Regions from separate parts of the Homo sapiens genome. Here region 2 is linked to region 1. A link means that fine-mapping ties the variant in region 1 to the expression of a gene that starts in the linked region. Tissue or cell type: blood mononuclear cells. Region 1 holds a variant in brackets; the other region holds the start of a gene. All regions are shown on one strand. Distances are between the middles of the regions.

Region 1 (15,750 bases):
TCCATTACTTAAAAACAGCCAGGTGCTGTAGCTCATGCCTGTAATCCCAGCACTTTGGGAGGTCAAGGCGAGAGGATTACTTGAGCCCAGGAGTTCAAGACCAGCCTGGGCAACATAGTGATGCCCCATCTCTACAAAAATAGAAGAAATTAGCTGGGCATGGTGGTACATGCCTGTGATCCCAGCTACTTGGGAGGCTGAGGTAAGAGGATTGCTTGAGCCTGGGAGGTGGAGGCTGCAGTAAGCCACAATCTCACCACTGCACTCCAGCCTGGGTGACAGTCAGACCCTGACTCCAAACAAAAACCAAAACTTCCTTCTTGCCCCTTTGCAGCCAGACTGTTTTCTGTCATTGTGGATGCATCTGTTCTAGAAATTTACATGGATGGAATCACTCAGTCTTTTGTATCTGGCTTCTTTTACTTGGCACAGTGTTTGTGAAACTCATCATTGTTCCACATAACAGTAGTTCCTTTTAATTGCCAAGTGGCATTCCTTGGTGTGAATGCACCACAGCTGGGCTAGCCACCCAGATGCTGATGGGCAGTCGATAGGCGGTAGGATGTCCCCATTTTCAGTCACTATGAATTGGTCTGCTGTAAGCACTAGAGTAGAAATTTTTTTTTAGAGACAGGGTCTCGCACCGTCATCCAGGCTGGAGGGCAGTGGCTCATAGCTCACTGCAGCCTCAAACTCCTGAGCTCGGGCAATCCTCCCACCTCAGCCTCCCAAGTAACTGAAACTACAGGCACACACCACTACACTTGGCTAATTTTTAAACTTTTTGTAGAGACGGGGTCTTGCTGTGTTGCCCAGGCTGGTCTTGAACTCCTGGGCACAAGCAATCCTCCCACCTCTCAAGTAGCTGTAATAGGTGTAAGCCACTGCCCAGCACCATTTATTGAAGAATCTGTCCTTTCCACAGTGAGTGTGCTTAGCACCTTTGTTGGAAATCAGTCGGCTGTAGAAAGCGGATTAATTTCTGGGCCCTCTGTTCTGTTCCATTGGTCTGTGTGTCTGTTTTTATGCCAGTTCCATGCTGTTTTGGTTACTGTAGCTTTGTAGTGTATTTTGAGTCTGGGAGTGTGATGCCTCCAGCTTTGTTCTTTTTGTTCAGGATGGCTTTGGCTGTTTGGGGTCTTTTGTGGTTCCATACAAATTTTAATATTATTTCTTTTTCTAAAAAGAATGCCATTGGTATTTTGATAGGCATTGCCTTAAATGTGTAGATTACCTTGGGTAGCACAGTCGTTTTAACAATATTAGTTCTTCCAATCCTTGAGCATGAGATGTCTTCTCATTTGTTCATATCCTCTTCAGTTTCTTGCGTCAGTTTTTTGTAGTTTTCCTTGTAGAGGTCTTTCACCTCTTTTGTTAAATTTATCCCTAGGTATTTTATATTATTTGTTGCTATTGGAAATAGGATTGCCTTCTTGATCTCTTTTTCAGCTAGGTTTTTGTTTGTGTATAGAAATGCTACTGATTTTTGTATATTGCCAGGGGCAGCCTGTGGGACTTTTTCTTAGGCCCTTATTGGAGGCACAGAGCCATTGGGCAGGCCAGGGGCGTACCTGCAGGTGGGGGTGCCGTGGGGCTGATTTTCAGGCCCTGAGCTCCTGCTGTCAGTTGCTTGGAGGCTGGTGGGGCCTATGTGGGGAGACCTGCAGCTGTTTGGCTCAAGGGTGGGTTTGCTGCAGGTGGGAGGAGCAGACAGCTGGAAGAGCTGCGGTGGGGATGGGTTTCCCTGCTGTGCAGGACCAGAGTCACAGCTAAGCCTGGGCCCAAGCTCTATGCAGCTGGGGTTGTGGTGTTCAGCTGCCCATGTGGGCTTGGTGGCATGAAAGTGGAGCCCCAGTGCTGGAGAGGTGCAGGTGCTACTGGCCCCAGGGCAGAGCCCCTCCAGATGCAATAGCAGCTTGGCTCATGGCATGGGTGTGGGGTGGGAGGTGCACACCTTTTGCTCCTAATCGGGGGAACACTGCTGTGAGAATTCCCTGCAGTGCTCCCAACTGGGCTCAGGGCTTGCAAGGACTGTGGGTTCTCCTGCAGCAAGGACTGCCAGCATTTGCTGTAGCAGTGGCAGCTGGTGGAGATCTGCTTACCTTTTCCTTGCCACTGGAAGTCCCTCTTTGCTTCTAGGTCAAACTGGTGGGTGAGGAAGACTGGGCAGCAGACGCCACCTGGGCTTCCGAGCACCACAGGGGTGTCTCCGGCCTCTGCTGCAGTCCAGCACTCTGCCTTCGACGCTCCAGTCAAATTGTCACTGTCAACTTGTTGCCTTGATCCTTCTTTGTGGGGAGGAGGGGATGAGCGCCAGACAGTTCTAGTCAGCCCTGTTGCCAACACCACTCTCCTTCTGGTGACTTTCAAAGAGAAAAGTTGAACATTTTTACTACACCCAACGTAATCATGTTTCAGTGATAAGAGTTTTTGAATTTTGCTGTATGTGTTTTGAATTTCTGTTAGTAGGAGCATACTCATTTGGGGTCATTGTGTCCTCTTGATGTCTTGACCCTGTTGTCTTTGTTTATCCCTGGTGATGTTCTTTGTTCTGACATCTGCTTTGTGTCGTGTCAACATAACTACTTCAGCTTTCTTTTGACAGCGCTTCCCTGGCATGCCCTTTTCTCTCCTTTAACTTTTAACCTACCTGTGTTTTAAATATACATATGTATCTATCTGTCTATCTACACATTTTTTTTTGAGATGGAGTTTTGCTCTTGTCACCCAGGCTGGAGTGCAATGGCACTATCTAACTCTCACTGCAACCTGTGCCTCTTAGGTTCAAGTGATTCTCCTGCCTCAGCCTCCCGAGTAGCTGGGATTATAGGCACCTGCCACCATGCCCAGCTAATTTTGTAGTTTTAGTAAAGTCAGGTTTTCACCATGTTGGCCAGGGTGGTCTCGAACTCCTGACCTCAGGTGATCCACCTGCCTTGGCCTCCCAAAGTGCTGGGATTATAGGTGTGAGCCACCACGCCCAGCCTATTTTCTTTTTTTTAAGTAAAATTTTGAGACAGGGTTTTGCTCTATCACCCAGGCTGGACTGGAGTGCAGTGGTGCCATCTTGGCTCACTGCAGCGTCACCCTCCCAGGCTCAAGCAATCCTCCCACCTCAGCCTCCCAAGTAGCTGGGACCACAGGGGTTCACCACCACACCCAGGCAATATTTGTATTTCTTATAGAGATGGAGTTCCACCCTGTTTCCCAGGCTGGTCTTGAACTCCTGGACTCAAGCAATCCTCCCACCTCAGCCTCCCAAAGTGCTGAGATTACAGGCATGAGCCACCATGCTTGGCCTTAACCTATCTGTGTATTTATATTTAAAACGGGTTTCTTGTAGGCGGCTTAGAGTTAGTTCTGTATTTCAATCAACAATCTCTGCCATTTAATTAGAGTGTTACATCATTTAAATTTAATTATCAATGTTTTCTTATTTGTCCTATTCATTCTTTGTTCTTTTTCCTCTTTTTTCTTCCTGCTTTTAGAATTATAAATTTATCTTTTTTGGATTCAAATATGTCTTCTTATTGGCTTTTCAGCTAGATCTTTTTGCTTTACTTGTTCAGTGTTTTTTTCTACAATTGTCAATTTGCAGCTTAAACTTAAGCTAGTCTACTTCCAGATATTATAACCCTTCATGTGGATTTTAATGACTTTAAACAGTAACGTTCCATTTCTGTTCTATTCCTTTCTTTATTGTCATACATTTCACTGTCACGTGAAATACAGCTGATATATACCCTTTAGCCTCAATAACTTCCTTTAGCATTTTGTGTTATGCAGATCTACTGAAAATGGATTCTACCAATTGTCATTTGTATGGAAATATCCTTAATTTGCCCTCGTTTTTTGAAAGATATTTTCACTAATTCTCTAGGTTGATGGGCACTTTTTCTTCTGTCATGTTAAATCACATCGTTCAGTCCACTGTCTTCTGACTTGCATTGCTTCTGATGACAGATTGGCAGCTGTTCTTCTGTGTTTCTTTGTGTTTTGTGTGTATTTGTCTGGCGCTTTTGCCTTGTCTGTCCTGCTTGGGGCTTACTGAGCTTATCAATCTGTGAGATTCAAGTCTGAAAATGTTGCAGTGAAGGTTTCTTCAAATATTTCTCTGCCTGCCTCTTCCTTTTGGGACTCCAGTTATATGTATATGAGCTGCTTGATGCTGTTTCAATGTCAGTGAGGTTCTGTTTATGTTGAAACTTTTCTCCCGTCTCCGTGCTTAGGTTTGAATACTTTCTAATGCTTGTATTCAAGTTCACTGGTATTTTTCTGCAGTTTTCAAACTGCTGCTAAGCTCATATTATGAATTTTTCATTTCAAAGGTATTTTTCATCTCAGAGGTTCCATTTAGTTATATATATACATAATATATTTTGCCAGGATATATCCTTTGGTTAAAAAAAAAGTCTGTAGGTATTAAAAGCAGGGTTACGTTGAATGACCTTGAACATCCATTTTCTGATATTTTGTGACTTTAAGGTAGCTGCTTAGAAGTGGAATTGAAGGATGCAGTTGTGAATGCACACAGGTCTTTCCGGGCATCTCTGAGCTTCTTCCCGCAGGGGCTGTGCTGTTTGCATCCCAGCAGCAAAGCATGAGGTTGTGTGTTTCCCTGCAGCCTCCCCATCAAGGTGTGCTGGTGACCTTGTGGAGTTTTGCCAACCTGTTAGGAGAGATGTTGTAACTCAGTGTTTTCATTTCTAATTCTCGGATCATGAAAACTAACAGGCTTGGCTTGGTGTGGTGGCTCATACCTGTAATCCCAGCACTTTAGGAGGCCAAGGCGGGTGTAACACCTGAGGTCAGGAGTTCAAGACCAGCCTGGCCAGCATGGTGAAACCCCGTCTCTACTAAAAATACAAAAAATTAGCCGGGCGTGATGGTAGGCGCCTGTAATCCCAGCTACTCAGGAGACTGAGGCAGGAGAATTGCCTGAACCTGGAATGTGGAAGTTGCAGTGAGCCGAGATCGTGCCACTGCACTCCAGCCTGGGCAAGAGAGAGAGAGACTCCATCTCAAAAAAAAAAAGAAAAAAGAAAACAACGGGCTTATTTACAGCAGGAGCTGTGGTGCCCTTGGGGGATGTGTGAGCTCCAGGGATGACAGCAACCACCATCTGTTCATCTCAGCACTTGGGAGACAAGCCCTGTAGGATTCATTCAGTAAAAATAAAATCCTACGAAGTGAATTTGTAGGCTTGGGGAAGTGTGGACAATGCAGTTTGGGCATCACCTACGTACAAGCAGAATTCGCAGGAACAGCTCCTGGGCATTGGGATGAAACATGGCCCCTGCCATCTGCTTCTTGGTGTCAGGCCGGCCTCCTGCTTCCCGCCTTTGTTGCCAGCGTGGAGGAAGCAGAGGTCAGGGAGGCAGTCACTGCTTGTCCCTGACACGGGACTCAGTCTCCAGACAAGGCGGCTGCTCTCAGTGTCCTGTCTCATGACTCCAGGAAGGCCCCTCCCTGTAGAGTGTCAGCAAGTGCCCACGACCCACCCACAGAGCAGCTGAGCAGTGCCTAGCGCGCAGGGCAGGCCACACGGCGCCACCATCAGAGCACGAGAACAGAAGGGCTGGGGGCCGTGGGAGCCTGGGCGGGCCAGGGTAACGAAGAGCCCGCCGTCGGTCTCTGCATCCGTCGGCTCACGTGGCCACGGAGCAGCACCGTGTTACAGCAAAGCGGTCCTGATCCAGAACCCAAGAGAGGGTTCTTGGATCTCGCACAAGATAGAATTCAGGGGGAGTCCGCAGTCCCATGTGGAAGTGAGTTTATTAAGAGAGTAAAGTGGCGAAAGGACGGCTGCTCCACAGACAGAGCAGGGCATTCCCGAAACTAAGAGGAGAAAGGCGCCCACCTGGGGTACAATCCTGGTGTATACGGGGAGATGTGCTCTGCTACGAGCGTTGATGATAAAGAATTAATTTTCTTAATTAGTATATTTTGCAAGAATCAATATCATTTATCTTTAAGGCAAAATTAGGAATGCCTTTGTTCTCTGGATATCGGGGTATCTGGACTCCCAAGTCTGGGTCTGTTTAGTAAACATTATTTATTTGTTCCTTTATCTCTAAACGTCTAGAGGCTGGGAATGCCCGACTCTCTGGGAGTGGAGCCTAGCAAGTCCTAGCCTCGTTTTCCAGCCCTCACTCGAGGTGGAGTCGCTCTGGTTCCAGCGCCTCTGACGACCGCAGGCTGGGGCTTAGACAGGACATTTATTGCTCAAAGTACAGTCCATGAGGCTGGCGGTCCCAGATCCAGGTGTGGCAGGGCTACTTCCTCCTGAGGCCTCTCCTTGGCTTCCAGACACCGTCTTCTCCCTGAGTCCTCACCGGGTCGCCCCTCTCTGCGTGTCCGCCTCCTGATCTCCTGTTCTTACAAGGACACCAGTCACAACGGGCCCACCCTCTTGATCTCATTTAACTGAAATCCTTTCTGTAAAGACCCCATCTCCAAATACCGTCACATTCTGAGGTCCTGGGGGTCAGGACTTGAACATTTAAACTTGGAGGCAGGCACAGTCCCACCCATCACAGCCCATTGTCCTCCACAGCCCTCCAATCTCACTTCGAGTCTTCCCCAAGGGTCAGCACAGGCTCTGCCCTTGTGAGCTTCATGGGAATGAGGGTCAAGGGGGTAATGAGGGCCGGAAGTGATCGGAGGGAGGCGGGAAGAGGGAGGACTTGGACTCCGCCCACGGGGTCCCCACCTGGGCATGGCTGTAGGGAGGGGCATCGTGCTGCTCTTGTCCTTACTGGGGGCCAGTGTCTGAAGGAGGAAGGGATGGGTGGCAGGCACTGCGGGGAGGAGAGGGCTCTCCAGCACTCATATTTTCATCCTTTGACCGTGCTGCCTGGGCACTGAGCATAGGAGGATGTCGCTGGCTGGCAGGGCTGTCACCCTCATCGATGGCCCAGTTTCCCAGGAGGAAATGGATGGGATGGCAGGTTTCAGCAGAGAGCACACAAGCCCTGCTATTATCTTACAAAAAGCCAGGCCAGCCTCCCACAGCTCTCCATGTGACTTAGCATCAATATTGGGGGTTTTGTAGTTACCTCAGGAAACCTACTTTTGAACAAATAATAGATTATGTTCTCTGGAACACAGGGGGAGCTAAATGCCTTTTGACAGCCAGCAGCTTATGGAAATAGCCCTTTTCCTGGCAGAAGAAGTCGGTTCCCCACGGCCGCGCCCGCTGCTTCATCCAGCTTCCCCTCGCTCTGTGCCGACGGGTGCCCGGAGTTCAGCCCCTGGCCTGACTGTTGCTGTCACTGCCCCCTTGACCACTGCAATGGTGACAGCTGTGATGTACGATTACAAAGCGGGACACAGAGCCCTCCCAGAGCAAGGCAGCTCCCCTGTGGGCCAAGCGGACCAGGCTACTGGGGGACCCTGGGCTCCTGGGACATGGGGTGCGGGTGCAGACAGGGCCTGAAGTGCTCCTAGGTGCATGCCAGTGGCAGGAAGCCCCATGTCACAGAGATGTGGCCCAAGCGCTTGACAAGAGACGGCGTCAGATGATGTAAAAGAAACCAATGGACCTAAGTGGGTGCCATCCTGAGCCCCGCTGGTGGATTAACTCAGTTCCATGCCCACGACTGCCCGAGGTGGAGCGATGGTCATGCCCACTGCACAGATGAGGAGCCGAGGCCAGGAAGGGTTTTGCCAGATGCCTGGGCTGGGGCCAGGGCTCAGGACCACCCACTGAACTGCCTGCTCGGCCCACCCTGGCAAGTGTGTGCAAGGGCCCGGTGGTGCCGACGAGGAGGGCCATGGGGAGGAGATGTTGTTGTCCTGAGACTCCCAGCCCCACCTGAGGGGGAAGAGGGTGGGAGAGCAAGGCTGGGAGCCACCCTTGGGGGCTGTGCATGTGCCCCCTGACATTGGAGGACACAGGCCACGCCACACCTGTGCCACCCAGGGAGTGGGAAGGAAGCACGTGGCCGTGGAGAGGCCAGCAGGTGGCAGGAAGGGCTGCAAGCCCCCAACCACGGGGTCACACGTAGGGGACCCAGCACCCCATGCAGGAGCTGGGCTGTGCCCTGCATCTGCACAGGCCGGGGCATGAACTGGGCATCAGCACCGCCCTCCCATGGGGACGAGGACCCATGCCCGCGTGGTGCAGGAGCTGTGCACTGAGCAGCCCCATGGGCAACTCCAGCCCGCAGTGCCAGGAGCAGGGCCAGGCCTTGTGGCAGGGGTGCAGGCTGGCTCCTGGCGGTCGCTCAGCTCTCGGGGATAGGTGAGGACGCGTGGAGAGGGGATAGCATGGGCATCAAGGCCGAGGCACTGGCCCCTCCCAGAATGGCCTCCAGGACCACCCTGCCTGCCCCCGGGTGCCCCGCTGTGCCTGGGGAG[G/A]GTAAGGGTCACTTCGGGTTCACGGCTCCAGGGTCGCCGTCTTGAAATTCTTACCAATTTTATCACTAAGCTTATGTTTTTCAAGCAAGATAGGATGGGCATGGAGCCCCTGCAAGAGCAAGCCACGGGCGCCCTCCGAGCCCATCGCCGCTCAGAACCTGAACAGAGCACATAAGCAAGGCTCACGGCGACCACAGGGCTGGTCGCAGCCAGGACGGGGTGAGGAGCTGCAGCCCCAGCCTCGCCTTCCCTTCAAGCCGAGCAGCTTCCAGTGGGAGGAAACGCCAGCGACCGGGCCCCCGTCCTTCCTCCTCAGGCGGTCCTGTGGAAGGTGCGGTGCTGATGGAACGTGGTGACTGGGAGGTGGCATAAAAGCAGCCACTGTGCTGGTTTTGTGGGACCTCTCCTCCTTTCTGGGGGTCCCTGAGGACAGGTGCATGTGCGAACTGTGAAACAGAAACTGAGATTTCACCTTCCGGATGAGTTCCATGCTTTCTTTTTTGCATTTAAAACCGGACAATGTCACATTGGCAAAAATCTAGAGTTTTCTGCCGTCTTAGCTGGAAATGAGCTGCAAGTTTTTCTCAAGATGTAGTGTGTAATCCGTCAGAGCAAAACACGGAGAGCCCTTAGCAGAAGCCCACTTCAATGTATTTTCTTCATATCCCTGAAGTTCCTTAAAAATAGGTGACGATGTATTGGGAAGAGGAGAACTGAGAAGTTCCCTTGCAGGTTTTGTATCAGTGACATGTAAATGAGCAATTCACAGATGAGCGCGGGCACAGCTCTGTGTGCTGCGTACATACGGGCCGGGCTATGATGTCTCACACTGGATGATATTCCACCTTCGGAATTTTAGTGTTTGAATACAGAAAATGGGTTTAATAACTCACTGTGGTTTTGATTTATCTTATATTCATCATTTCTTAAAACTCATTTCTTATAAAATTTAAAGTAAAAAAAATAAAACTAGACAATATATGAATGGCAGATCCATGCTAATGATTCTAATTTTCAGAATTTCTTTACTTAGAATGACATAAAATAGCAACTAAAAAATAAGTTGAGAAACTGTGGAAAAAGAAAAAGCTAGGCCGGGCACGGTGGCTCATGCCTGTAATCCCAGCACTTTGAGAGGCCAAGGCGGGCAGATCACCTGAGGTCAGGAGTTCAAGACCAGCCTGGCCAACATGGCGAAACCCCGTTTCTACTAAAAATACTAAAATTAGCTGGGCTTGGTGGCTCATGCCTGTAGTCCCAGCTACCTGGGAGGCTGAGGCAGGAGAATCGCTTGAACCCAGGAGGGAGAAGTTGCGGTGAGCTGAGATGGTGACATTGCAGTCCAGCCTGGGCGACAGAGCAAGACTCTGATAAAAAAGAAGAAGTTGTATATTTTACTACCTTGCACAGCACTTTCCCCTGCTTTTTAATGAGGCACTCCACATTTTCACTTTGCACAGTGCCCTGAGTGGGCCAGATGGAGGGACCCTTCTTCTGGGGTCTCACCCTCATGTGGCTGCTGGTCCACACGGGCCCTGACAGTGGCTCTCGGGGTGATCACAGCCTGAGGCTCCTCCTTTCTCAGGCCCTGGTCACTCAAAGGATTCCCGGCGGGGTCCCTCCAGTGAACACCCAGCTCCTGCTTCAGAGCATGAGGGGTGTGAGTTTTCCAAAGGTACCAGCTTTGGACAGATGGGGTGAGATGGTGGCCAAGGGGTCCCTGCAGGGGCCCCTCATGGTCCTGGGGACACCCTGACTCTTCTGGCCGGGTGGAGCACAGCCCCAGCTACCTTTGCACTCTCCAAGGTCCCAGGGGCACCCAGGCTACTGAGTGTCCCAGACATCCACACGCAGGGATTGGGGGACCAGAAGCTGGGGAGCCCTAGGGGTTTTGAGGGCAGAGGGCAGGAGGAGGGTGTGGTTAATGGTGTCCAATGCAGGTGCTAAGCCACAGGAGGAGTGGGCTGTGGCGTGGACGATGCAGGTAGCTGTCAGCATCAATGAGATGTGCAGTGGGCTCATTGGGGGGTGGGGTTTTTTAAGAAAAAAGCCTCGGGGTGTGGCTGCTGGTGGGTCGCCCTGTCAGAGAAGAGAAAGCTGGAGAGGACACAGGGCTGGGGTGGAGGGCAGGTCTGCGGGTTCCAGGGGGCACACTGGAGGGGACACTCAGGGGCTGGAGGCTGTCTTGGGTTGGGACTGAGGCTGGTGTGGGGTCTTCTGCAGGCTGGGACTCATGGTGGGGCTGGGTTCAGGGGTGGGAAGTTGGAGGGGGATGCTGGGAATATCTGCTGTGACAGTAGAAAATGTACATTCAGGATTAGCCTAGTGGCTCACGCCTGTAATCCCAGCACTTTGGGAGGCCGAGATGGGTGGATCACTTGAGGCCAGGAGTTTGAGACCAGCCTGGCCAACATGGTGATACCCCGTCTCTACTAAAAAATAATAAAATCAGCTGAGCATGGTGGCACGCGCCTGTAATCCCAACTACTCCGAAAGCTGAAGCAGGAGAATTGCTTGAACCTGGGCGGCAGAAGTTGTAGTGAGCTGAGATCGCACCATTGCACTCCAGCCTGTGCAACAGAGCAACACCCCGTCTCAAAAAATATATATATATTTATTCTATTTTGTCCCCAGTTCCTGACACAGTGCTTCTTGGAATGTCCTGCATGGTAGGAGGTGAGAATTCATAACAAGCCCCTTTCAACCTCTCCTGAGCTTATGCTATGAGGGGACTCTTGGTAGGCCCCTAGATAGCTTGAGGGTGGTGCTGGTTGCTAGGGGAACCAGCCGTGTGATTGAAGGCTGAAACTTTCAGCCCCATTTCTCAATCTCTGGGGCCAGGGGTTGGAGATGGAGGCCAACGAAAAATCACCAGTGATGTCACCAATTGTGTCCACATGACACCTCCATCAGAAACCCTCGCCCATGGGATTTGGAGAGCTTCAGAGTTGGTGAACACGTCCGCGTGTGGGAGGGGGCACACCCCAAGTCCATGGGGACAATGGAATGTCCTGTGCCCGGGACCCCACCAGCCCTCGCCCCAGGCACCTCCACATCTGGATGTTCCTGCGTATTCTTCACAATATCTTCTCCAAGAAAGCAGTAACGGTAAGCAAAGTGTTTCCCTGACTTCCACGAGCCATCCCAGCAAATTACTGAATTTAAGGAGGGGATGGTGGGCCCATTTGCAGCCACGTTGGACAGACATGTGGGTGGCCTGGGGACACGATGCTTGTGACTGGCTGAGTGGGGGCAGCCTCACGGGCAAAGCTTTCAACCTTCCGGATCTGCGCTAGCGCCGGGCAGTGTTGGAGCTGAATTAAATTGCAGGACACTCGGGTGGTGTCTGCAGAGACCCGGAGAATTGGCTGGTGTGCAAAACCCACACGCTTGTTGTCAGCCGTGTCGTGAATCGAGGAACAGCTTTCCTTTATCCACAAAAAAAGCGAGTTTTCATTCCCTATTCTTAAGTGCGTGGCTCCAGCTTTTGCAATAATTCTAGTCCTTATGGTGAGGAGGGTAATGTGAGCGAGGCTGAGAAAGCTCCGGAGGAGTCCACACGGCCATCCTCTTTCTAGTTCAGCAACAAGAGCCAAAATCAGGTTTCCACGGAAAGTGACTGGCGTTGGCTCTCCATAGGGAAATGAAAGTAAAAGAAGCAGTTTGGCCAGGCGCAGTGGCTCACACCTGTAATCCCAGCACTTCGGGAGGCTGAGGAGGGCGAATCACCTGAAGTCAGGAGTTTGAGACCAGCCTGGTCAACACGGGGGAAACCCTGTCTCTACTAAAAATACAAAAATTAGCCAGGCATGGTGGCGGGTGCCTGTAGTCCCAGCTACTCGGAAGGCTGAGGCAGGAGAGTCACTGGAACTGTGGAGGTGGAGGTTGCAAGTGAGCCGAGATCACGCCACTGCACTCCAGCCTGGGCGACAGAGCAAGACTCTGTCTCAAAAGAAAAAAAAAGCAGCAGTTTGGGCCATGCAGTGAGCGCTCTGTGGACCAGTGGACTCATCTGCTGGGGTCCAGGCAGCCTGGGCTGCTCCTGGTTCTTCCCTCCTCCCTGCATGCACGGCCCTGCACTGCCCTCCCTGGGGCTGCTGTGGGAGTTCTCGGGGCTCTCGGTGGTTGTCCCGCTGGCTGGGAAGGGCTGTGGTGTGTTGGGTGCTGCCTACCCTGAAGTACACGAATTAGGGTTGTGCTGTGTTGGGTGCTGCCCTCCCCAGGGGCTGCTGTGGTGTGGTGCTGGGTGCTGGCTGCCCTCAAGTACATGAATTAAAAGTTGCTTCTCCTCTTGCCAGATGCAGGGAGGAGGCTGAGCAAAGCCCTAGCTCATTTACGTAGAGACAGACACACAGAATTTTTGCAGGAATTTAATGCACTCTGATTTTTCCGGAGATCTAACAATAGCGCACATCAAAGTGGGTGGCACTGGGCTCTGTTCAGAACATTCCAGCAACTGGTCACTGCAGCAGCGCACTCACATGGCGGTGGGCGCTCGGGCTGACCTCACCTTCTGGAAGGTGCACCTGTGTGCGCAGGCATCCGAGTCCATGTCACGTGCTGGCACGGCAATCGCCATCCTTTCACAACAGGTCACGAAGCCGACTGATTTTGAATGGCTGTGTGGGTAATACTGCCCATGACCTTCATTCCAGAGAGCAACAGGCATCAGGAAACGTCTGTCACAACAGGCAGGGCTGGAGCTTGACACGGTTGAGAATCCCTGATGCTCAACCCGTATTTTCTGGCTACCAGTTGAAAGAAAGGGTGAGAGGATGCTTGGCTCCGAGCAAGTGGCTGAGAAACGCAGCCATAACATTCAGCTCCTTCTCACCAAATTCTTTACCCCAAAGAACCCTGGGAGGAAGACACATTTGCTAGGAGCTGGGTACCTGAAATCAAGGTAAGGAAAGGATGCCAGGTTCTCTCCTCCAAATGGCGCTCTGGGCGTCTCCCCTACAATCAGAGAGGAACGAAACTTACACGAACCTTAAACTTCTGTTAGAGGTAAAATAGAATAATAATAATAAATCCCAGTTCAGTGAATTCAGGTTAACCGCAAAGCTCATCGGTTTGGAGAGACGAGCTCTGACCTTTGTGAAATTTTGTGCACAAACAACCTGGAACACTGCTGTGAGAGAGAGGGCTGTGTCCTGGCCAGTGTCGGCCCCACCTGCAGGAAGTGCTTATCTGTTTCATCGGTGAGGTTTGCTGGCTGGGCTTGGGGAATAATGGGTTCCCACTTTCTCAATTGTCTCCAGGGTTTGGAACACAGGGCTCTGCGCCTCTTTCTTCACTTGCTGTTCCACAGAGAAGGTGACCCGAGCTGCACAGTCCAAACCGAAGGACACTTAGTCCCCAACTGGATGAAACAGGGAAGAAGCGAAAGCATCTTCATCTATCGGTCTCAGTATTTGAAATTTTGCTTTCTAGATAGGCAGACCAACGGAATAGAAGATAAAGTCTACAAATAGAACCAAATATATGTAGAGATTAGGTATACAATGAGGTGGAAAAAGACGGACTTTTGACAATAAGTTTTTGGGACAGTTGGATAGCCACATAGAAAATGATACAACTGGCCAGGCACAGTGGCTCACACCTGTAATCCCAGCACTTTGGGAGGCCGAGGAGGGCAGATCACGAGGTCAAGAATTCGAGACCAGCCTGGTCAATGTGGCGAAACCCATACATCTACTAAAAATACAAAAGTGGCCAGGCGTGGTGGCTCATGCCTGTAATCCCAGCACTTTGGGAGCTGAGGTGGGCAGATCACGAGGCCAGGAGTTTGAGACCATCCTGGCCAACACAGTGAAACCCCATTTCTACTAAAAATACAAAAATTAGCCGGGTGTGGTGGCGGGTGCCTGCAATCCTAGCTACTTGGGAGGCTGAGGCAGGAGAATTGCTTGAACCTGGGAAGCGGAGGTTGCAGTGAGCTGAGATCGTGCCACTGCACTCCAGCCTGAGTGACAGAGCAAGACTATCTCGAAAAAAAATAAAAGAAAACTAAAAGATACAACTTAACCTTTAGCTTATTTTCCACACCAGAATAATCCCCAAAGACCAGAGATCTTCATGCGAGAAGGAAGTAAGGTCTGGCTGAAAACACAGCTGCAGGATGTCACAGGAGAGGAAAAGGCTTTCTAACCATATCTTATAATTTAGAAGAACAAATACAAGATTGCCAAAATTTATCACTTAAAATAATGTATACTCAGGTCTGGCACGGTGGCTCACACCTATAATCCCAGCATTTTGGGAGGCCGGGGCAGGAGGATCACCTGAGGTCAGCAGATTGAGACCAGCCTGGCCAACATTGTGAAACCGTATCTCTACTAAAAATACAAAAATTAGCCAGGCCTGGTGGCACACGCCTGTAACCCCAGCTACTAGCGAGGCTGAGGCAGGAGAATTGCATGAATCCGGGAGGTGGAGGTTGCAGTAAGCCGAGATCGCATCACTGCACTCCAGGAGCATCTCAAATATGTGTGTGTGTGTGTGCGCGCGTGTGTGTGTGTGTGTGTGTGTATACTCAATCAAAATCCTAGCAAGTTATTTTGTGGCTATTGAGAAATGATTCTGAAGTTTACATAGAGAGAGGAAAGACCCAGCACAACCAACACAAAATTGAAGAACAAAGTCACGGGACTCATGCTGCCCGGCTCCTAGGCTCCTGATGAAGCTGCACTAATCAAAGCAGGGTGGTGAATGAAAGATGGAGGAGGGGGCAGGTAGGGGGTGGATAAGGGGGCGGGTAGGGGGCGGATAAGGGGGCAGGTGGGGCGGATAAGCGGGGGGTGGGTAGGGGGCGGGTAAGGGGGCAGAGTGCAGAACCCAGAAACAGACCCATGTGGATGCAGTCAGAGGAGCAAAGCCAATTCCATGGGACAAAGAGTCTTTTCAACAAATGGTGCTGGGACAACAGGACACCCATGTGCAGGAAAGCAAATCCAGACACAGACTTCCCACCCTTCACAAAAACGAACTCAAAATGGATCAGACCTCAATGTAAAACACAAAACTATAACGCTCCTAGAAGATAACATAGAATAAAACCCAGATGGCCTTGGGCATGAGATGACGTTTTAGATTCAACATTCAACATGCCTGTTGGATCTAAAAGGCATGATCCATGAGAGAAATAATGGATAAGTTGGACTTCATTAATGTGAGAAACTTCTGCTCTGCAAGAGACTCTGTCAAGAGAAGACAAGCCACAGACTGGGAGAAAATACTTGCAAAAGACTTATCTGATAGAGGACAGTACTGAAAATATGCAAAAAACTCTTAAAACTCAACAATAACAAATGGACAATAGATTTTAAAAGTGAGCAAAATACTGGAACGTAAATCTCACCGAAGAAGTTCTGCACATGGCAATACGTG
Region 2 (15,750 bases), 22 kb after region 1:
TGGCCTGGTGGATGGCTTCCTGCAGGCTGACAAGTGGCCACTTCAACATTTTTCTTTGGTGTCTCCGCTGCTGGGTGAGCTCTCTGGTGGCTCAGGGACTGCAAGGTTTCACACTGAGCCATATAATTCACCACCACCCCCCTTTCCTACAGAATCTTTCTCCACTTCCCCTTGTCTTTCATACTTATCAGGGCAAATAAAATTTGGTCAGGTAAACAGGTCCCAATTTTATAAATAATTTGGGTCCAGCTGTCTTGTACAGGTCACTTCATTTGCATGATATGTGTTGTGACTAGCATGCTATCACATTGGCTTATAAATAAGAGTGCTCATAAATTAAACAAATAAGTCTAAACATGTTAGTTTGAAGGGAATGTTGTGTCTTCTAAAATTTAATTTTTACCTAGGTAAACCAGATGTTCATAGGTTTTGGAATGGTTAAAATGGCTTTAGGTAGTGAGTTTTGTATGGCTTAAAAATCTTGAAACTGTAGAATGCTTCTCATCTACAGGATGCTAATGTCTGTTGGGCAGTTGAAGATTTCTTGCTTCCTACCTGTATATAAAATGTGCTAGGGAAGATACATTATTGGGAAAAGAATAACTTTTGTCCAGAAAGTATTAAATGAGGGGCTCAAAATATGAGGGAACCAGTACGAGTAGAAAAGAGAGAAGTGGGGAGTTATACATACATACATTTTTTTTTTCAGGAGGGGTATGAAGACTGACTTACAGGTGCCCGCCACCATGCCTGGCCAATTTTTGTATTTTTAGTGGAGACGGGGTTTCACCATGTTGGCCAGGCTGGTCTCAAACTCCTGACCTCAGGTGATCCACCCACCCCGGCCTCCCAAAGTGTTGGGATTACAGGCGTGAGCCACTGCGCCCGGCCAAGAAAGACTGACTTTGTATGAGAAAGGATCTCTGGTCCCAGAATAAAGAGACTGGTTGTGAGGGAGGTGTAGGACAGGTCAGAGAGTCCAGGCATGTCATGGGTGGTCTGTGTGGGTTGTAATGGGGTTTGTGAAGGGGAACTTCTGAGAGTAGTTTTGTGTGCAATTAAGCCTGCTGTGATTAAAGAAATTTTTTTTTTTTTTTTTGGAGACAGAGTCTCACTCTGTCACCCAGGCTGCAGTGCAGTGGCATGATCTAGGCTCACTGCAACCTCTGCCTCCCGGGTTCAAGTGATTCTCCTGCCTCAGCCTCCTGAGTAGCTGGGACTACAGGTGCCCACCACCACGCCTGGCTAATTTTTGTATTTTTAGTGGAGACAGGGTTGCACCATATTGGCCAGGCTGGTCTCGAACTCCTGGCCTTGTGATCTGCCCGCCTTGGCCTCCTAAAAGTGCTAGGATTACAGGCATGAGCCACTGCACCCTGCTGATTAAAGAAAAATGGTTTGTGGTAGACTTTCTAGGGAATGATCTATGTATTGGAACTGGGTTTTCTTAAGGTATTGATTTATTAAGTTATGAGAATTTTTGCTTTTAATGCTATAACCAGCTTCTTCTAAAACTTCTTTGGGCTGAGTGCGGTGGCTCACGCCTGTAATCCCAGCACTTTGGGAGGCCAAGGCAGGTGGATCACTTGAGCCTAGGAGTTCACAACCAGCCTGGGCAACATGGCAAAAACCCATCTCTACAAAAAAAAAACAACAAAAAAAAACACCACACACCACTTTTTAAAAAAAATGTAGTGTGGGTGTGGCGCACATCTGCAGTCCCAGCCACTTGGGAGGCTGAGGTGAGAAGATCACTTGAGACCAGGAAGTCAAGGCTGCAGTGAGCTGTGATCACACCACTGCACTCCAGCCTGGGCGAGAGTGCGAAACCCTGTCCCACAAAACAAACAAAAACTGCTTGGGTTGGTGTCCCAGAGGTTCAGCTGTTGTGTCCCACTGCTGTTAAACTGCAGGAAGTCACTCGCTGGGTACACCTGTCCAGGGTTAAACCTGCGTCTTCTGCGTCCCTGCAGGCATGAGGGGAGGACAGCATGCCCTTCACCTGTGAGCCCCTGGAAGGTGTAAAGCTGTTGTTTTGCAAATACACAAATCACATGGCGAGGAGCACGTGCAGTCATCAGCCATACCGATTCTTCTTGCCTGGTTTTGACCTTTCTCAGGGCCTTTAATGACATCTCATCATTACTAACTTTTGGCTCCCTTATTGGATTTTGGGTTTCTTCCCACCCAACCTTCATTTCCCCCATGATCAGACCAACGGTAAAGCAGCCTCATCTTCCTTTGATGCAGGAAAGATGAGCCCTAAAATTGGGGTTTAGCCAGGAGGGTTCTTGGCTTCACCCAGGAACGAGTTACAGGGCAAGCTGGCGGTGTTAGTTGCTCCCTGTGGAGCCGGGCTGACTCACAGGCAGTGTGCCCAGAGTCCACGGCATATGGGCTGTTGGCAACCATGTGGGCTGTAGGAAAGGCAAAGGACCTTTCCCAGGACCTTTAATAACTATCTTATCATTACTAACTTTTGGTTCCTAGCAAAGCTCGAGTCCTGTAGATTGCAACAATTCCACACAAAGACAACACTGGTACAGGCTTCAACCCATCCTATCCTCTGACCTGGAGAATGAAAGTGTCTGGCCTCTGGGGCCCTTAGATCAGAGATTTTCCCTCCTCTAACCTTACACAGGACCTATGCCCATGAACACAGCAGGAAGCAATCCCAGAAGACAGACCCTGCCCTTCTGCACCCCCTTAAGATTAAGGGGAAGGATCTCATCTCTGAAGAGAGGGGATGAGGTAGGAAGGTGGCAGGACTTGTTTTCTGGTCACTGACCCACTGACCAAAACAGGATCTGGGCTGGATGGGATGAAGTGGAGACAGGAATCAGGGGACGGCGAGGAGGGTGATCCCTGGCTGCCATCATTGCTCATTGGCATAAGACCCTCCCACCAGGGCCATGATGGTTTGCAAATGCCATGGCAATGACCTGGAAGTTACCACCTTTTTTCATTGCAACGACCCAGAAGTTGTCACTTCTTTTCTAGACAATTCTAAATAACCCACCCCTCAATTTGCATTGATCTCTACTTAATCTGCATGTAAAAGAAGTGGGTATAAATACAGTTGCCAACAGCCCATACACTGTGGACTCTGGGCACACTGCCTGTGAGTCAACCCCGCTCCACAAGGAGCAGCTAACACCTCCAGCTTGCCCTCAAACTCTTTCCTGGGTGAAGTCAAGAACCCTCCCGGCAAAACCCCAATTTTAGGGTTCATCTTTCCTGCATTAAAGGACAAAGGGGCAGAAAGGGTGAGGCTGCCTTACCGTTGGTCTGATCATGGGGGAAATGAAGGTTGGGTGGGAAGGAACGTAAAATCTAATAAAGCAGTTATCTGTACAGCAGCTAGACCTCTCCGAAGGAATCCTGCTTTGTGGTTTTGGCTTCCGAGGGTGTAAGTCTTCCACGTCTGCAGAATGCCGTCCTCGCCATCGAAAGGAAGAAGGTGAACTCTAAAGTGGAGACGTGAGCTGGATGGTGATGTTGGTCTCCTGTGGCTGCCATAACAAGGTGCTGCACACCACATGGCTCAGGACAACAGGCACCTGCCGTCTCAGAGGCCACAGTGTGACAGTGACGTGCAGGCAGAGTGGGCTCCTTCCACCCCCTTCTCCCACACAGTGGCTGCTGGTGGCCCTGGGTGTGCCCTGGCTGTTGGCTGCATCCCTCCAGTCTGCTCCCTCTCAGCGTGGGGCTCTTCCTCTGTGCTGGTCTGTCTGATGTCTTCTCATAAGACATCAGCTACAGGATTTAGGGCCCGCCCTAATCCAGAATGACTTCACTTTAACTCATTGCATCTGCAAAGAGCCTGTTTCCAAACAAGTTCACATTCTGAAGTTGTGGGCGGACATGTGTTTGGAGGGCACCGTTTGCCACAGGACAACTACGTATCACAGTGCTGGTGATGCAACCACACAAGTGAAATTATTTCAAGTAACTGTCTCAAAACAAAACAAAAAAAGTGTCTCGCTCTGTTGCCCAGGCTGGAGTGCAGTGACGTGGTCTCGGCTCACTGCAACCTCCACCTCCCGGGTTCCAGCAATTCTGTTTCAGCCTCCTGAGTAGCTGGGATACCATGCTGGAATAATTTCTGCATTTTTAGTAGAGATGGGGTTTCACCACGTTGGTCAGGCTGGTCTTCAACTCCTGACCTCAGGTGACCCGCCCGCCTTGGCCTCCCGAAGTGCTGGGATTACAAGCGTGAGTCACCGCGCCCAGCCTTCAGGTGACTTGTGAGCACAGCACTCACACTGTTTATACTTAGAAGGATATTCTCTGAGGATAAAAGATCATCTTGTTTTCATTTTTAATTTCTAAATAGTCACTTTGAAATGATTTCAGTCATGAAAAAAGTTACCAAAAAACAAAAACAGTGCAAAGAATTCCAGCATATCCTGTAAGTAGTTTCCCTAGAAGTTATCTCACATAGAACCATGGTGCAATGTTCAAAATTAGGAAATTAACACCAACGCAATACTGTTTTTAAAAAATTATTTGAAATGCAATACTATTAACTATCTACAGGCCCCATCCCAGTGTCTTTCTGGCCCACAGCCCAGTCCAGGACCACACATTGCATTTGGTTGTCATTCTCCCTGGCTGCCTCCCAGTGGGGACAGCTTGGAGTGTGGGGCCATTGCCCAGCACACAGCTGCTTCTCATGACTGCATTTAGGACATATCCTCTGGGCAGGACCCACAGAAGCTATGCCAGGCTGACTTCAGGGCATCTCATCAGGAGACCTATGATCTGGGCCTGTTACTGGCGTGTTAAGCTCGGTTGCTGGGAGCAGGGGTATCTGCCAGGGCTCTCTGCCACAAAGTTACATTTTCCCTTTAATTATCTTGTCGGGAGATAGTTTGAGGCCAAGAAATATCCCATTTCTCATCCTAATTTTGCCTACTAATCGCAACATCCCTCGATGATTCCTGTGTTGTTTGCCAAATGGCCATTCTCTGTTACCATCGTTCCTTCTACATTAACTGCAATTCGGAGGAGACGAGCATTTCACCCTCTTCCCCCTTATTTATCTATGCATTTATGTATGGACTTGTGGGCATTTAGCCTTATGAGTTATGAACTATTACTATAATTTTCTTTTTTGAGACAGGGTCTCGCTCTGTCACCCAGACTGGAGTGCAGCAGCATGATCTCAGCTCACTGCAACCTCTGCCTCCTGGGTTCAGATGATCCTCCCACCTCAGCCTGCTGAGTAGCTGGGACCACAGGCATGCACCACCATGCCTAGCTGATTTTTTATCTCCTGTAGAGGCAAGGTTTCACACCATGTGTCCAGGCTGGTCTAGAACTCCGGGACTCAAGCCATCTACCTGCCTCAGCCTCCCAAAGTGCTGGGATCACAGGCACGTGCCACTGCACCTGGCCCATTGGTATACTTATGTATTGTTTTGCTCCGATTATCCCAGGTTTGGCTCTGGAGCCGTGTAGATTGGTCCTGCATCCTTTTGGCCCCCCCCGCTGCCCTCTGAGCGCTCTGCCTTACTGACCACCCCCCCCCCGCTGCCCTTTGGGCGCTCTACCTTACTTTGTGGGACCACTCCATGTTCACCCGGGAACCCTCCCTGCCTCAGTGCTATCTGGGGGCCCCAGTGCCTGACCTGGAGAAAGATGTTAGTGCCCGAGATCCGGCTCTGGGGGTGCCCATGGCTGTAGGGTGTCCCTGCTCCGAGGTCCCCCAGTGGACACAGCTAAAGCCTCGGTGAGAACACACGGGCCCATGCCAGGCTCACACCCGTCTACCCAGCCGTCTACCGACACTTCCGTGCTGAAACTACAAGCTCCTACTGCCGCCTCCCCTCCCAGCCTCCCATGCTCCTTACTGGTAGCTCCCTTCTCCAGCAGCGAGGCTCGTCACCCACAGCGCGGCCGCTGGAAGGTGACCTGAGCGGCCAGACAGGGCCTCCTGCTCAGAGTTTAAAGCTCTGCTGTCGCCATCCTTAAGTTCTTAATGAGTTTTGAGCAAGGGCCCTGCAATCTCATTTCGCACCAGGTCCCGCAAATTATGTATCCGGCTCTAATTACCCACAATATGCTTGCTTGCTCAAGTCTGGAGCACACACAAAGTAATCTCATAATTGCTAACCCAGGTTGCTGTGCAAAACAGCTTCACAAACTAGGGCACAGTGTCTGCACGCCATTCTTTTTGTCTTACAGCCCATGATACTGTCTTCCAAAGCATGCGGTAGGTTTTCTTTTCCCCACTCCCTTCGATGAGGTTCACCTGTTACTGCTTATATTCCATTTCGGCTTCAAGCCCCCATCCCGGTTGATTTTAATCACTTATTTACTTTGGGGGGTGTGTGGTATATTTCTGTGGTCCTGGAAGGAACACAAAAGCTGCAGCCTCCATAATAAGGTAAGCCCACCAGCGCCTGTACCTTTGAGGACCATGAAGGGAAGGGTCTGTCTCCCTGTTCCCTCCACTAACTCCCCCCATCTCTCTGGCCCCCACTTCTCCGCAAAGTGGAAACTCCCTGGGGAGGCAGAAGACCAGGGTGGCAGGACTGCAGGCAGAGAGGGATTCCTGCCGCCCCATGGCTGGGTACCGCTGGTAGGCCACGCACACACTGGGTAAGTGTGCACTAGGCACTGACGTTAAGGGCCAGGCGTTGGTCCCTCCGTCTCACCTGCGCCAACTCAGCACAGGGAGAGAGCTGAGGCTCTGACAAGGATACAGGGCAGAGAGCAGGAAACAGCAGGGCTCAGGCTAGGGGTGGGAGCCCAGCTGCTCAGGAGTTGAAGTGCAGGCCCCCTGTGGGCACCTGGCGGACAGGAAAGGAAGGAGACTAAGGAGTGTGTTGTACTTTATCTGTACCTGGCTACGTGAGATCAGACTGTCACCCAGCATTAACTAAACCTTACAGTGGAGACAGTGGGTTGTATCACTCCCGAGAAGAAACCACAGAACGCTGTAGGAGTAATGCCTGCACCGGCTTCCCCCGCACCACACGGAGCGGCTGCCTACAGCTTTGTTAGGGGCTGAATGCAACCCCGATGCAGGCACCAGCCCTCCAGAGCAGCCTCCATGGAGGAATGCGGTTCCCCACTCTGCCCACATACCTCTCCTGCAGCAGCGCTGAACACCGTCTCCGGACGTCTGGAGCTATCACCATGGGCAACACTTTCGTGGTCTTTATTTTTAGCTTCTCCTTTAGAAACTCACTTTTTGGGGTGGTTTTGTGTCCAGAAGTTGGTGGGTTCTTAGTCTCGTCTTCAAGAATGAAGCCGCAGACCCTCGCGGTACATGTTACGGTTACCTAAAAACGGTGTGTCTGGAGTTTGTTCCTTCTGGTGCGTTCGTGGTCTACACTGATTTCAGGAGTGAAACTGCAAACCTCCGCGGTGAGTGTCACAGCTCCTAAAAATGCAGCACGTCCAGAGTTCTTTGCCCCTCCCAGTGGATTTACAGTCTCGCTGGCTTCGGGAGTGAAGCTGTAGACCTTTACCGTGAGCGTTGCAGCTCACAAACGCAGCACAGACACAAACACTGAGCAGCAGTAAGATTTACTACGAAAACCAAACAAGGAAAGCTCCCAGAGGACAAAAGCAGACCCTAACAGGTTGCCACCGCTGGCTCCCGCAGCCTGCTTTTATTCCCTTATCTGACCCCACCCACATCCTGCTGACTGGTCCATTTTACGGAGAACTGATTGGTCCATTTTACAGAGAGCTGATTGGTCCATTTTACAGAGAGCTGATTGGTCCATTTGGACAGGGTGCTCATTGGTGCATTTACAAACCTTTAGCTGGCTACAGAGTGCTGATTGGTGTGTTTACAATCCTTTAGGTAGACAGAAAAGTTCTCCAAGTCACCACCGGAGCCAGAAGCCCAGCCGGCCTCACCTCTCAGTAGCACTCCCTTTAGAACTTTGCAGCATCTACCCTGGGCACTCCGGCAGCCCAGAGGGAGCTCATCCCCAGATCAAGCCCAGCAGGCGTCGGCGGGCCAGCCAAGCCTGCACCCACCCGGAACCCGCGCCGCCCGCGAGCGCTGCGCTCAGCCCCCGCTCCCGCCCGCGCCTCTCCGCCAGCAGAGGGAGCTGGCTCCAGCCTCGGCCAGCCCCAGAGAGGGGCCCCACAGCGCAGCGGCAGGCCGAAGGGCTCCTCAAGCACGGCCAGAGCCGACACGGAGGCCCAGGAAGCGCCGAGAGCCAGCGAGGGCTGCTGGCACGTTGTCACCTTTCAGTTTCACAATATCCCAAGATGCATTAGTAGTTTCTGTAGCCTGAGTGTTAGTGGCCCCCAAAATTGATAGGTTGGAACCTAATACCCAATGTGATGGTGTTAACAGGTGGGACCTTTGGGAGGTGAGTAGATCACGAGGGCTGTGCTCTCACGAATGGCATGAGTGGCCCGGGTAGAAGAGGCTCCAGGGAGCTCCCTCGCTCTGTCCACCCTGAGCCTTGTCAAGAGGCGCCGTCTTGGAAGCAGAGGGCTGCCTCATGGGACGCCACATCCGCCAGCACCCTGGTCTTGGACTTGCAGCCTCCAGGACTGTGAGCAATAAATGTCTGTTGTTGACAAGTGGCTCAGGCTTAGGCGTGTTGTCACAGCAGCCCGAATGGACTCCAGCAGCAGAGCAGCCAGGGCTGCACGTGGTGCGTGAACACACCCGCCGCCCTCCTCCTCCTGGGGCATATGACGGCTGCGCAGCTCTGTGTATCCAGTTTCTGGGCTGTTCCATGCCCCTATTCCCCTGATTGCTATGTTCTCCAGCTGAAAGAGCACACTGATTTTGCCTTCAGCCCACTCTCATTTTCCCCCAGATTTCACTAAGTGATTTTGCTAAGTGATGGCTGTGCTTCCCCTGTGCGCTTCTCTCTGGCTGGTTTCTACTCCGGATCCACTAGTGGGGCCAGAAAGAGCAGTAGGAAGGAACCTGAGGTTCCTGTCCACCATCAGGCATGTGCACACCTACACCCACACACCCCTGCACTGTGCACACCCACACACACTTGCACACCCACCTGTGCACACGTACATCCATACACACATGCTCACCCCTACATGGACACCCACACACGTGCACGTGCCCATACACATGCACACCCATGCACACACCTGTCTGTGCACACCCCACACCCATGCATGCCGGCACACACCCATGCACATCCACACACAGGCACATACCCACACACACGTGCACACCTCACACCCATGCATACCTGCACACGCTTGCACACTCACCTGTGCACACACATCATACCTGCATGCACACCCCCACACGCACACCCACACACCTGTGCACACACCCATACACATGCATGCCCACACCCACATGTGCACACACCGTACATACCTGCACACACCCACGTATGCACATGGTCAACACTCACCCACTCAGGCACTCTTACATGCACACACGCACACAGACATGGCCACTTTCATGGACACACACCCACACACGCCCACATATACACGCATGCCCACCTAAACCACTCACTTGACCAAATAGCTTTTCAGGAGAGCGCCTGGTCCTGAAGCTTTCTAGGCATTTCGGTAGCCAAACCCTCTTGATCGTGTGGTTCCAGAAAAAGCCAGTGCGGCACCCACTTACCCGTACTGCAGCCACCGTGGTCCCGGGAAGAGGGCTTGCTTCCGCAGAGCTAATGAGGGAAGCGGTCTCTGAGAGTAGAAGGGAGGCCTCGGAGGGAGGTGGTCTCCAAGAGTAGCCGGGAGGCCTGGGAGGATGGTGGTCTCCGAGAGTAGCAGGGAGGCCTGGGAGGGTGGTGGTCTCCGACAGTAGCAGGGAGGCCTGGGAGGGTGGTGGTCTCCGACAGTAGCAGGGAGGCCTGGGAGGGTGGTGGTCTCCGACAGTAGCAGGGAGGCCTCAGAGGGAGGTGGCAGAGCAGGCTCTGCTCTCAGGAAGTGCCCCGTGGGTGGCGACGGGCCGAGAGGTGCTCTGGGGGACGAGTTATGGCTCTGAGCTGCCCGTGCAAGGCAGGGAGGCTGCGTTTTCATGCGTTCACACCTCAGTCCCTGGGTAAGGACCTCCCAGGATGTACCTCCAGCACCCCGGTCATGCAGAGGCCTGGGAAAGCCTGTTGAGGCTGGAGGGGTGGGGGCACATTGGTGTGTTGGGGGACCTGTGTCGTGGGCACGGCTCCCCGTTTAGGGAAGGCACTGCGGTGATCACGCACTACCAGTAAGTATTTCAGAGCCCAAAACGCGAAAACAAATGGAAGAAGTTCCATGTCATAGTGAGTCTTGGCTGGGCGCAGTGGCTCACCTGTAATCCCAGCACTTTGGGAGGCTGAGGCGGGCAGATCACTTGAGGTCAGGAGTTTGAGACCAGCCGGGCCAACATGGTGAAACCCTCTCTCTATTAAAAATACAAAGCTACTCGGGAGGCTGAGGCAGAAGAATTGCTTGAACCTGGGAGGTGGAGGTTGCGGTGAGCCAAGATGGCGCCACTGCACTCCAGCTTGGGCAACAGAGTGAGACTCCATCTCAAAAACAAAAAAGAAAAACAAATAAAAATACAAAAATTAGCTGGGTGTGGTGGCGGGCGCCTGTAATCCCAGCTACTCGGGAGGCTGAGGCAGGAGAATCGCTTGATCCCAGGAGGTTGTAGTGAGCCAAGATGGCGACATTGCACTGTAGCCTGGGCGATGGGGTGAGACTCTGTCTCAAAACAAACAAATAAACACACACAGAAAACAGTGAATGTTTTTATTACAAATAATAAATGTTTGCTTTTACATACCACACCTCATTTCCCCAGGGGTTCCTGAGCACCCCCCCCCAACCCCCTGCTCACCCTCCTTCATTCTCTCCACAGTGTTTGAGGCATATTTTGTGCCAGGCCCCTCCCAGGGCTGCTAACAAGAAAATACAAAATAAAAATGGCAGAGAAGCGAGTGCCTCCCGCGTATGGCAATGCCAGCCATGAGCCAAACGGCTGAACAGAGTCCACATCTCCCTCCGGGTTTCCGGGGTCCCCTGCTCAGGCCTCACCAGTGCAGCGCGGACGTCAGACCGCTACCGTCTCACTCAAGGCTCCCGTGGGCCAGGGTCCACCTGGGTTCTGCTCCTTGGGATATTGGCAGGATCCCGGGCCCTGCTGCTGTGGACTCGGGACTTCACTTCCTTGCTGGTCAGAGGCTGCGTGAGCTTCCAGAGGCCACCTGCTGTTCGTGTCACCTGGGGCTCCCCGGCCCAGCCATGTGCTTCCTCAAAGCCACAGGGGAGGGCCAGGTTCCAAAGAAATGGGCATTGCAATCCTGTGTAACACAATCACATTCCTCCACTCCACTTTGCTGTGTTCTGTGGGTTAGAATATGGTTATCGCCGGGACACCAAACAAGGGTGTCACCAACAGGAGGTGGGGGGCCTTGGGAGTATGGCTACCACACAGGAGGAAACGACAGCTCCACTCCATCACTGAACCTGAGCTCAGCAGTGGCTTTGAGTGTCCTGGCAGCCACGCAGGAAAGGGACTCTGCTCAGAACACACATGCAGAAGCAGGACACACTCCTGCTCTCAAGCCCAGCGCTGAGCCCATCAGCGCTGAGCCCATCAGCGCTGAGCCCATCAGGGGCAGGTGTCCTGGGCCTCCGGTCTCAAGGGCATCATTTCTGTGCAGGCAACAGTCACTGGGCTGTCCTTTCACGCCCTTTGGACACACAGACAACACAAGTGGTTCCCAGAAGCCCTCTGTGTCCTGTCAGGTGGTGACAGGTGGGGGTGGCTGTCCTGTGTCCTCTCAAGTGGTGACAGGTGGGGGTGGCTGTCCCCTCTGTCCTCCGTGGTGGTGACAGGTGGGGGTGACTGTCCTGTATCCTGTCAGGTGGTGGCAGCTGCAGGTGGCTGTCCTCTGCATCATGACCCCACCTGTGTCATGGCAGGGCCAGGCTCATCTCCAGAAACCTCAGGTCAGTGATCCCTACGGATGCCTTTTTACATCATGTCAGAATCTGGAAAGTCTGTTTTATTTCATTATCTGAAATACTTTTAAGAGTGGTAACGGTAGCATTAGACTGATAGTTACATGGATCTGGGACATCTGTGGCACTGGTGCATAAACATCTGAGCCATTTCCATCATTTAACTTGTCCAATCCTTTCAACAGCCTTCTGTGCTGGGCGCGATGACTGCTCTCTGCACAGATGAGTAAACTGAGGCACAGGTGCCTGGACCCTTGCCAAAAAGTGAGGGAGCCAGAGATTCTAACCCAGGGCCCAGCCCTGAGTCTCACCCCTGCCCTCTCCCATCTGCCTGTCCCTCCACAACCCCGATGCCCGACCCTGGGTGGAGAAAGTACAGGGAGGGTCTGCAGCTGCCCAGCTGCAGTGTCCAGTGTCCTGGCGACAGGACCCGGAGCAAACCAGGCCTCGGCATGGGCACGGGATGAACTCAGGGCACCGGTGGGGTGTTGGCCGTTTCTGGGTAACAGACCTACAGGTGATGTCTTTTCCTCTTCTTTCTAAGCTTTAAAAATTACCATTGTGATTAATAGAACTTTTTAGAATTTTAGATACAGTTTCTCTGTGTGAACAAGGCTTAAAGGATATGAGAATGTTTCTGTAGCTTACAGGTCATAATACTATCTTTGAATACACAAATTGAAAAGCCACTTAAATATTAACCTTTGATTCTGAACCAGGATGAGCTTAACGATGGGGACCTGCAGGGCGTGGCCGGCTGGAGCCCATGGCCAGCAGCCATGGCTGAGGGCATACTTCAAAACGGTCATTTCTGTCCCACTAATACTGTGTAAATATGTATGCCATCCAATTTTTAACCAAATAAAATGTTCTGTCTGACGGGTCCCTTCATCTATATGACAAACAGTTTTAAGTAAAGAGGATCTCAGCTTGCAGAATAAGTAAAATTGTTTAAATTCTAGATAAATGTGTTCAGTGCTTGATGGGCTAATGCTGGCTGGATTTGTGAAGGTCAGTCATATACATGAAAATTCTTCTGCATTCACCTTAGAAGAGCGATATTTTTAGGCGAACAGAGCTTGCGATATTTTCTTTCCGTGCCACCTGCCCGCTTGGTGTCTGGCCCTGCGTCCTCAGAGGACCATGGTGGGCTGGTGTTCTTGGAGAGGAGGCCTCTCCAGGGCCACCAAGAGGGGGCTGTGGCCCAGGCTGAGCTCTTCTAGTGGCATGAGGGACACGCTTTATTCATGTGAGCGTTGTGAGGTGGGAAGGGAGGCCAGCCAGGGGAAGGGTAGAAGAATGCCTGTTGCTTGGGTCGGAGGCTCGATGGACTTTCACTGCTGGACATAGTGTGAACATGGGAGACGCAGGTTCAGCGATCACGTTTCACTTTCCCATTCCCCGGACCTCAAACTCAGGCCTGTGTAACTAAAGGTTCTGTGCTGCCAGGCTGGGCGTTTCCCCCAGGGAAGGCACGAGAGAGCGAATGCAGGGCCGGCCGCGGGGCCTGGGGACTGTGCCGCTCAGCACCACCCACAGGGCGTTCCTTGGGGCGTGGCCTGGGCCGGGGCGGTAGGATCCCTTGGACAGGGCCGTGTCTGGCTCACAGGAAGCTGCCCTCATGGAACGGGGTGCAGTGGGGTGTTCGTGGTCCTGCTGCCGTTGGCTGGGCGCAGCCATCCCTGCCGGCTCCCCCGCGCCTGTGCCCCGGGCCCTACTGCACCTGCACGGGCGGGGCTCTGGGGCCGGCGCGGGGAGTGAGGCCGCCGGTCTCCTCTGCTGTGGTCGGTGTGGGGGCCGGCGGGGCGCAGAGCTGCTCACCCGGCTGACTCCCCCTTCTGCCCTGCTGGCCTCTGAGCCGGTTCTCTGGGGCCTCTGTGAGCGCCTTGTGCCCCCCACACCCGCCGTGAGTACCGTGTCTCTCTGCTCAGCCAGGTGGGCGCCTCTGCTGCTGCTGTTGCCACCGAGTGACTGACTGACGCAGCGACGCAGCCACCGACACCCAAACACTGGAGCGTTTTACCCAAATGTAAAAGTCTAAACTTCCGGCTTCTCGAACAAAAGAAAACAAAGGAAAACGTCAGACGCCCCGTTGACGCCGGGCGCGCGTGGCCGCGGCCGAGCCGCTCTTCAAAGCCGGCAGCGTCTGGTCTGGCCTGGCTCCGCCAGCTGCCCGCAGGTCCTGTCCTCGTGGCTTTCTGCCCTGTCCTCCCTGGCCGGCTGCACTGGCTTCTGTGACGCTCGCTCCTTGCTGCGCAAGTGCAGGTGCAGCACCTTAAAGGCTGAGTGCGTCCCACACAGCGGGGCTGGAGCTCGGCACCTTCAGTCCACCCCAAACACCGCCCTCCCGCTGTGCACGGCCACTGCTGCCCCTCCTGCACCCCGACACATGGGGAGCTGGTCTGAGCCTGCCCCACCTGCTCTCCTGTGATCTCCCCTCTGCCACCCCCATCTCGCGCTCCATACCCCTTCCTCAGACCTCCTTGCCTGGGGCTGCTCTCCCCAACTCAGCAGAGCAGGGCTGGCCAGTACTAAGGACAGGGGCGACCACTGGTCCCCAGAAATCCTGAATCCAGGAAACCCCTCAGTCCGGGGCAGACCGGGATGGCCGACCACCCTGACTAGGGGAGGGCCGTCAGAAGTCTTTGACCCTGATCTAAGTTCTCTCTGCTTTGCTGAGTCTCTTTCTGTCTCTCTCCTCCTCTCCCTGTCTGAATGTCTGCCTGCCTCTCTCCCACACACATCTGAGACACAGGTCTCACAGAACCGCCCTTGCCCTTCTGTCTGTCTGTCTGCCTGCCTCTCTCTCACACACACACCTGAGACACAGGTCTCACAGAACCGCCCTTGGCCCTCTCTGCCAGGAGGGTGGTTCTCGGAGGTTCCCATCCTCTGTGGGGATGCTGACAGCTGTGGGTCATGGCTGGTGCCGCGGTTCTCACTCTTGGCTGCAGAGAGCAGCTGGGGGCTGCAGGTCAGGCCACACCTAGCTCCCCATGGCCCTGGTTCACTTAAGTGACAGGCTGGGGTGAGGGGAGGAGGAGGCCAGGGTGTGACCGTCGGTTCCATTTCTGCTTTCCCCCAGCTCCCCAAGTCAGGCACCGGCACAGTGGCAGTTGGTTTGTGGGACACCCATCTGTCAGTAGGGCATGAGTATCCTTGGCTCTGTCCTGCTGAATCATGGGTCCTGGCTGTGGCGCCAGGGCCAGCTGTGTTTGTGATCTGGTGCATCCTCAGGAGAAGGAGAGCAGGCGAGGCGCCAGGGAATGTAGGATTTGCTGATGAATTGTGTTTCAAAAAAGGTGGCTTTTTTTCTGTTGTCAGACTTCAGGAAACAGGTAGAGGCTGTGACCTTTGGGCCAGTCAAATGAATCTACAGAGATTAAAGGAGGATTGTGGAGTGAAAACCAAAAAAAGCCAAACATAGAGGAATCCGTTTACCCTTTCAGCCACGTATTTCGCTGTTGCCGAACCTTTATTAAAATGCTTCTCTCAAAGGAAAAATTGTATAGTTTTTTCAGGCTTCAAAAACCCAGGCCATGTGTCTAAAGGTCACTTGACGAACAGCACAAATCCCATGGTAAAGGGCAGGGTGCGGAGGGGTGAGCCTCCCATCCAGCACCAAAGCGGGCTCTGAGGGCTTATCCCTCCCAGGGAGTCCAGCACCAAAGCGGGCTCTGCGGGCTCATCCCTCCCAGGGAGCTTGGGTTCTGCACAAACAGTGTCAGAAGAAAAGACTTCTTCAGACATTTTGAAATTAACATTTCATTTGTATTAAACAGCCCAACCCTCCTTGGAGAGCAAGTACTAAATACAGCATCCACACAG

Evidence for each region. PIP is the estimated chance that this variant, and not a neighbour inherited with it, causes the effect.
Region 2: it holds the start of LINC01511, and the variant in region 1 is fine-mapped to the expression of LINC01511 in blood mononuclear cells (TOPMed, PIP 0.99).

The regions. Positions count from the first base shown.
Region 1 is chr5:1,350,867-1,366,616 of GRCh38, forward strand. LINC01511 (long intergenic non-protein coding RNA 1511) reads right to left here. Exons shown (of 2, transcript NR_125810.1): 2 at 12,716-13,825. Among named protein-coding and RNA genes, the nearest start is that of CLPTM1L, 14 kb to the left of the region's middle. RefSeq lists enhancers at 6,834-7,389, 7,390-7,945, 7,946-8,501. The variant G/A (reference allele first, on the strand shown) is at 8,362.
Region 2 is chr5:1,372,467-1,388,216 of GRCh38, forward strand. LINC01511 (long intergenic non-protein coding RNA 1511) reads right to left here and starts at 7,607. Exons shown (of 2, transcript NR_125810.1): 1 at 7,096-7,607. RefSeq lists enhancers at 13,308-13,602, 13,659-14,227.